2 linked regions of the Homo sapiens genome follow. The protein of the gene in region 1 interacts with the protein of each later gene in a pairwise test. Each region holds a gene or a part of one and is shown on either strand. Other genes may lie near its edges.

Evidence for each region.
Region 2: the proteins of CFHR5 (region 1) and KCNK7 interact in binary tests that used the Homo sapiens proteins (3 or more experiments, as listed by UniProt).

Annotation. Positions count from the first base shown.
Region 1 is NC_000001.11:197,001,556-197,005,055, reverse strand, and holds part of CFHR5 (complement factor H-related protein 5 precursor), read right to left. Parts: intron 2,575-3,500; coding exon 2,392-2,574; intron 396-2,391; coding exon 213-395; intron 1-212. UniProt on the Homo sapiens protein: Involved in complement regulation. The dimerized forms have avidity for tissue-bound complement fragments and efficiently compete with the physiological complement inhibitor CFH.
Region 2 is NC_000011.10:65,593,001-65,597,127, reverse strand, and holds the start of KCNK7 (potassium channel subfamily K member 7), read left to right. Parts: upstream 1-1,327; 5' UTR 1,328-1,355; coding exon 1,356-1,674; intron 1,675-3,253; coding exon 3,254-3,652; coding exon of another isoform or gene 3,653-3,708; exon of another isoform or gene 3,709-3,744; coding exon of another isoform or gene 3,745-3,785; exon of another isoform or gene 3,786-3,917; coding exon 3,918-4,123; 3' UTR 4,124-4,127. UniProt on the Homo sapiens protein: Probable potassium channel subunit. No channel activity observed in vitro as protein remains in the endoplasmic reticulum. May need to associate with an as yet unknown partner in order to reach the plasma membrane.

The DNA.
Region 1 (3,500 bases):
AGGTCTTTAAAATTTTATTTATAGTTTTTAAATAAATTTTTCTCACTTTGCATAAAGCAAATTTTTCAAATGTTTCCTTGTATGTATTTACATTTGACAGGAAAGATTTTGACTGAATGAAACTTAAGTAAGGGTTATTCTATGAAATTAGTCCAAAAAAATTACACTATAAATATTAAATCTCAGATTCCAAGAGAATATTAAGAACTCACCTAGGCATCTTGGTGGTTCTGACCACTGTTTATTTCTGCATGTTACAGTTACAGAGCCCTGGAGTTTATAGAAGGACTGGCAACGGTACGTCACTGTTGACCCTGGAGGATATACTGATAATGGGAATGAGGTGGTATCTCCATTGTTAATAGATGGAGGGGGCCCACAATATGCAGTAGACTCTGGAAAACAGCATTTATTTGTTGAGACATTATGTTAGTTTAAACAAAATAATATAATGAAGCATCATGTATCATATCTTTAATATAAGGTGTCTGGAAATTCAAATAATTAATTACAGTATTTCTGTCATAAAGTCTGATTCAAAACATATTGTAGCTCCTTTCATGTTAAAGTGAAATTCATATAAAATACCGGGAATACTTTTTATTGAAGGCAGGAGAGACAGGTGAGTAAACTTCTGGTCTAGGTTCCTCCTCCACCCCTTAATATTCAATTGTCACTTAAAGAGGAAAGGTAAAAGTAAATAACTTTCTTACTGTTTCTAGTCTCAGGGTAATTATTACTTTATGCAAATAGCATATACCAACTAGTATATGATCATAAACTTGTAGTTTTACTGAAAATGAATTGCAGACACACTCTTCTGCATTTACTTTTTTGATACCAAATAATATTGTAGGCATCTTTCCCTATCAATAAATGTTTCAACTTCATGCTAATGAAGAGATTTTGGGGAAAACTAAAAAAAGTAACAACTTCATGCTAAGATTGGCTGGAATACGTTCAATTGTACTGACTGATCTCCCTTTATATATCACCAAGAACATAAATATGAAATCACTAAGTAATCCTATCCCAAATTGCTTGTACATCCTCTAGTTTCATTGAGTTACTGTCCTTGCTTTCTCAGATTGACTTCTTCATGATGACACTAGATTCTTTCACCTTTAAACTTGTAAAAGATCCTTCTTCATGAATTATCTCCTTTCTTCTGTAACATCAATGTCTCCCTTTCCACTTAATCATTCACCAACCTACAAACATGCTGAAAATGTCACAATTCAATAAGGTAAAATTTCACTTTCTCCATATCTTCTATCCGGTAACTGCCTCATTTCTCTATTCCCTTTTGAACACATTTACTTGTTTCTCATCCTCCATGATCTTACTTTATCACCCCACATTCTTTCTTGAACACACTGCAATTACTTACCCCCTATGGAAATATCTCTAGGCAAAATTACCAATGGTTTTTATTTAGATAAATAGATTGTTCAATTATCAGGCATCTTGTCCAGCTCTAAGCACTCTTTGCCATATCTGATGTTTTGTCAAGTAATATTTTGAAATATGTGCTTTTGAAATGCAGCCATGTAGCACTTAATGACAAGAAGATATTCTGAGAAATGTGTCATTAGGCTCTTTTTTCCTTGTGTGAGCATCATGGAGTGAGCCTACACAAACCTAGATAATGTTGCCTACTACACACCTAGGCTATATGGTGCAGCCTATTGCTCCTATTGTCCCCAAACCCCTGGCTGCAGACCAGTACCCTCTGTGGCCTCTTAGGAACCGGGCTGCATGACAGGAAGTGAGAGGCAGGCGAATGAGCATTACTGCCAGCATTACTACCTCCTGTCAGATCAACCAGGGCACTAGATTCTCATAGGATCTTGAACCCTATTGTGAACTGCACATGCAAGGGACCTAGGTTGCATGCTCCTTATGAGAATCTAATGCCTGATGATCTGAGGCACAGGAGTTTCATCCTGAAACCATCCCCCAACCTCCTCAGTCCATGGAAAAATTGTCTTCCACAAAACATGTCCCTGATGCTAAAAAGGTTGGGTATTGCTGTCCTAGGCCACAAACCTGTACAGCATGCTACCATACTGAATACTATAGGCCATTGTGACATGATGGTAAGTATTTGCATATCTAAACATATTTAAACATAGAAAAGGTACAGTAAAAATATGATAGAAAAGATTTTTAAGAAGATGTAGAAATTTCAAACTTGTTTCTTCTATGAACACTGTTGGAGATAACTCTTAGAGAAACTTTTTTAAATGACAGAATTGGTTACTTAGCAATTTAAGGCTTTGGGGTACAGTGCAACAGATTAGTCATAAGTTCTTGTTTCTTTCTTTAGATAAAGCAAAGGGGATTAATAACCTCTTTTTAAGTGAAATTACTTAGAAATAAACTACTAACCAACACAGCGTGGTAATGATTGCCATCGTCCATCTTTACATACAATTTCTTTTGCTTCTGGAAGTAGATAGTTTTCTTTACAGAGAACAGCTACTTTTTCTCCATCCTGATAATTCACTGTGGTTGTCATATTCTGAGCATTAGGTATCTGAGGTGGCGGTGGGCAGAATTGTTCCCTTTTTTCTACAAAATATTGGAATTAAATTATATGATTAATAAAAGTTAAGTAAAAACAGCTCAATAGGGTAGTGTTTCAGGAAAATGGAAGATTCAATGACACACACACACTATGTCTCTCTATCACTTTCTCTTTCTCTCTCCCTATATATAAATGTTATAATAACAAATATTTTTTGTGTCACTATAGTTTACAGTTTAAAAAGCGATTCTTTTTGTTATAACCATTAGTTTAAAATTTTTCAGATGCTCTCTTGTATCTCCTATTCATTATTCCTGTCAATTCTCTTGTATAATTTACAAATAAATTTCTTTAATTTTTTTCTAACTAACCCATATGATTCAAAAAGTTATGTACATTGAATTTAAACAATTTAAAAATAAAAATGACAACAATCAGAAATAACTATGACTTCCCCTAATAACTGAACCCTAGATCTCAATAAAGGATTTCCATGACTTGCATTTTCTTGTAAACATGAGAATGGCTGGTAATGAACATAACTGGAATGCCTCCGTTGGACTAGGAATTAAATTCTTTTTTGGTTGCTTGGCTTATTCTTAGGGAAAAGTTTTAAATGGTCAACTTGGATGCCAAAGCGTTTTCTAAACCTCCTGACCTGGGCTCATGCCCTTACAGTGATCTCCTTCATCTCATGTTTTTCCAGAGTGGTGGCTACTGTCTACTAACACTTCCCTTCAAAATGGTGGGAATTGAACAATGAGAACACATGGACACAGGAAGGGGAACATCACACACCGGGGGCTGTTGTGGGGTGGGGGGAGGGGGGAGGGATAGCATTAGGAGATATATCTAATGCTAAATGACGAGTTAATGGGTGCAGCACACCAACATGACACATGTATACATTTGTAACAAACCTGCACGTTGTGCACATGTACCCTAAAACTTAAAGTATAACAATAATTAA
Region 2 (4,127 bases), on another chromosome or scaffold:
CCTGTAGCCCCAGCTACTTGGGAGGCTGAGGCAGGAGAATAGCTTGAACCCGGGCGGCGAAGGTTGAGTGAGCCGAGATTGCACCACTGCACTCCAGCCTGGGCGACAGAGCGAGACTCCATCTCAAAAAAAAGAGTAGTAAGTTCCACCCACCTCCCAGTATGGTGACTTGCCATGGCATCTGGCACCCCTGACAGTTCTCTTCACACTGCCATGGGGGCTCTGGCACTCCCACACCATACCCTAGGGCAGGGTCCCTCCCTCGGCCTCTGTCCATTCTCTTCACACTGCCATGGGGGCTCTGGCACTCCCACACCATACCCTAGGGCTGGGTCCCTTCCTTGGCCTCTGTCCTCAGCCCCTCTGACGTTAGAGGAGTTGGAACCCAGGCTCCCCCTTCCCCTCTCCCAGGTGCCCCATGGCAGCCCAGACTCTGTGTCTGCAGTTCAGGGGCAGGGAGTCAGGAGGGCAGGCACAAAGCGTTCTCAGGAAGAACTGGCAATCGGGCGCAAGGGTATCATCTGCCCGGGTGCTCTGGGCACCCTGGAGTCCTCTCCCCACCTCCCACCCCCACCTGATCCTTCCCAGCTGCCACCATTCCTCTCCCACCACACCACCCAGGCCAAAATCACTCCATCCATGACGCCTACAGTAGCCCAGCGTAGGTCTCCCTGGACCACATTTATCCTCAAGGGCCTGTGTCCTTATCCCCCCTTCACCCCCAACTCTCCCCTGCCACAGCCAGCCCTCTGTTCCTCTCACACCCCAAGCTCATTCCTACCTTCACTGGCCTCTTACTCCCCAGCTGAAATATCACCTCCTTAGCAGAGCTTTCCCAGTGAGATAACCCCCCCGCTCCCCGCAGAGCTCTCCCATCACCCAGGGTGTTTCCTTCATGGAACTCATGACAATGTGAGGTTGCCATGTTTCTTTGCTAAGAGGTTTCTTGTGTAAACACCAGGAAGGAAAGGACCTGTGCCTGTCCTCTTCCCTAAGCACTTGAATGAATGAATGAATGAATGAATGTGGTATGGGTGCCTGAGTGAGCAGGACCTTGAATAAGTGTGAGGTCCTCTCTAGGCTTCAGCTTCCTCCGCCTCCTCCCCTCACCGCAGCCGCCTTCCTCCACCCATCCCCACCATCCCAGCTGCTGTGAAATGGGCAAATGTCTTGCCTCCAGGACCTGGGAAGGGTGATGCAGCTCACCTCCCTCCTGTTCACACCCCAGCCACCCCAGCCATCCCAGCCGGGTCCCAGCCACCCACACAGCACCTCCTCCTGGCCCCGCCCTGCCCAGCCCCTCCCAGGTGCCTGAGGTGGAGCCGCCAGTTCCCACAGCACCCCAGCGGCCTGCCATGGGGGGTCTAAGGCCCTGGTCCCGATACGGGCTCCTGGTTGTGGCCCACTTGCTGGCCCTGGGGCTTGGGGCTGTGGTGTTCCAGGCCCTGGAGGGGCCTCCTGCATGCAGGCTTCAGGCTGAGCTCAGGGCAGAGCTGGCAGCCTTCCAGGCAGAGCATAGGGCCTGCCTGCCACCCGGAGCTCTGGAAGAGCTGCTGGGCACTGCCCTGGCCACCCAGGCCCATGGGGTCTCCACCCTGGGCAACAGCTCAGAGGGCAGGACCTGGGACCTTCCCTCAGCCCTGCTCTTCGCTGCCAGCATCCTCACCACCACAGGTAAGAGAGCCAGGCAGCCAAGTCGGGGGGTGCGGCTCCAAGAGGCCATGGCTCCCTGGGGGCTTTGGGGTTCATGCAGCCCTTCCTTCAGCCCCAAAGAGCCAGATGGAGCCCAGGCCCTGTGAGGCCTGACATCACAGCTGGGGCTCCCCACCAACACACCCCAACTGGTGCCTCCACTTCAACTGCCAGGAAGGGTGTGGCCTCCCCAGTCCCACCCCAGGCACCCTTTGAGACCCAGGAGAGCTGCCCAGATGCCACAGCCTGTGGCCAGATAGGGGATACAATACAGTGGGATGGATTCTTGGATGGAAGCAAATAGAATGAACCTGGGAAGGACAGATCAGGACCATGGCCTCGGGTGGGGGAGTGAGGGAAGATAGGGGAGGAAGTCGGCATGAGATGCTTGTGGATCAGGAGGGCACAGACAGGGATGAGGGAGTCCTGCAGAGAAATCGCGTGGGCACAGGCCCAGGGAAAAGCAGCAATGAGACCCACAGCCCTGGGTTTTCGTATTTTTTGCCCCACAAAGTGTCTCAGTATTTTTTGAATTGGAATTTGTATTTCCAACTTTTTTTTTTTTTGAAACGGTGTCTGACCCTGTCACCCAGGCTGGGGTGCGGTGGTGCGATCTTGGCTCACTGCAACCTCCACCTCCCGGGTTCTAGCAATTCTCCTGCCTCAGCCTCCTGAGTAGCTGGGACTACAGGCATGCACCACCATGCCCGGCTAATTTTTGTGTTTTTAGTAGAGACGGGGTTTTGCCATGTTGGCCAGGCTGTTCTCAAACTCCTGACCTCAAGTGATCCACCTGCCTCAGCCTCCCAAAGTGTTGGGATTACAGGTGTGAGCCACTGTGCCCAGCTCATATTTCCAACTTCTTTTGGAAAATCAGGAAACCCACTCACACTGAGCCAGAATCCCTGCAAGGCAACATCCTGACTGGAGCAGAATGGGGCCTGCCCTTTGGATACAGCTCACACTTTCCAGTGTACCCCTGTCCCCACCACTCCTGTTTGTCTCCCATCTGGCTCCGGTAGGCATGTGCGTTTGCAGCTCTGTATTAGCTGATCCTGTTCTCCCAGCACACCCCGCACTCCCACCCCTCCCCGCCTGGCACATGCCCTCTCTCGCCCATGCTGCCTCTTTGCAGCCCTTCATGATTTGCCTGCCCGACTCCCCCACCAGAAGGGGCAGGGCCTGGGCTGATTCAGATCCCAGTACAAAGCCTGGCACACAGGACATGACACACATTTGGGGAAAGAGTGGATGATATTCCACCAGCTGTGGAATCGGGAGTATCTGTTAAGGGCAGCGCAGTTCTCAGAATTGTCCCAGCTACAAAAGGCCTGAGGAACTGTCTTCTTTCATCCTTTCATTTTCCAAAAAAGAAAAGAATGGCCTAGAGAGGGTAAGGGATCCCCTGACGAAGAGGAGCAGAGCCAGCTAGAACCTGGGCCTGGCCAGTTCAAGGCCACCAGAGGGCAGCCTTCTGCGGAAGGCAGTATTGGGGTAGGCAGGGACCCCAGCAGACATGGCACTCAGAGCTCTCACTGTCCACTGACTCTCTCTTCTCCAGGTTATGGCCACATGGCCCCACTATCGCCAGGCGGAAAGGCCTTCTGCATGGTCTATGCAGCCCTGGGGCTGCCAGCCTCCTTAGCTCTCGTGGCCACCCTGCGCCATTGCCTGCTGCCTGTGCTCAGCCGCCCACGTGCCTGGGTAGCGGTCCACTGGCAGCTGTCACCGGCCAGGGCTGCGCTGCTGCAGGCAGTTGCACTGGGACTGCTGGTGGCCAGCAGCTTTGTGCTGCTGCCAGCGCTGGTGCTGTGGGGCCTTCAGGGCGACTGCAGCCTGCTGGGGGCCGTCTACTTCTGCTTCAGCTCGCTCAGCACCATTGGCCTGGAGGACTTGCTGCCCGGCCGCGGCCGCAGCCTGCACCCCGTGATTTACCACCTGGGCCAGCTCGCACTTCTTGGTAAGTCCAGCCACCTAACAGCGTGTGGGGGAAGGGGGAAGAGGAGCCTGGACTAGGACTCCCATAAATCACTGGGGGGCTGGGCCTTGCAGGTGGAGGGACCTCACTCCAGGGCACGGCGTGGGAGGGGTAGTCGAAGAGCTCTGGTGGCAGCGTTGAGAAGGGGGTGAGTGGTGCCAGTTGCCAGGGCAAGTCACTGCGCTGGGAGGTGGGCGGGGAGCATCACCAGAACCCAGGCGCTGCCCCAGCACCTTCTCCTCCCCAGGTTACTTGCTTCTAGGACTCTTGGCCATGCTGCTGGCAGTGGAGACCTTCTCTGAGCTGCCGCAGGTCCGTGCCATGGGGAAGTTCTTCAGACCCAGTGGTCCTGTGACTGCTGAGGACCAAGGTGGCATCCTAGGGCAGGATGAACTGGCTCTGAGCACCCTGCCGCCCGCGGCCCCAGCTTCAGGACAAGCCCCTGCTTGCTGAAGCG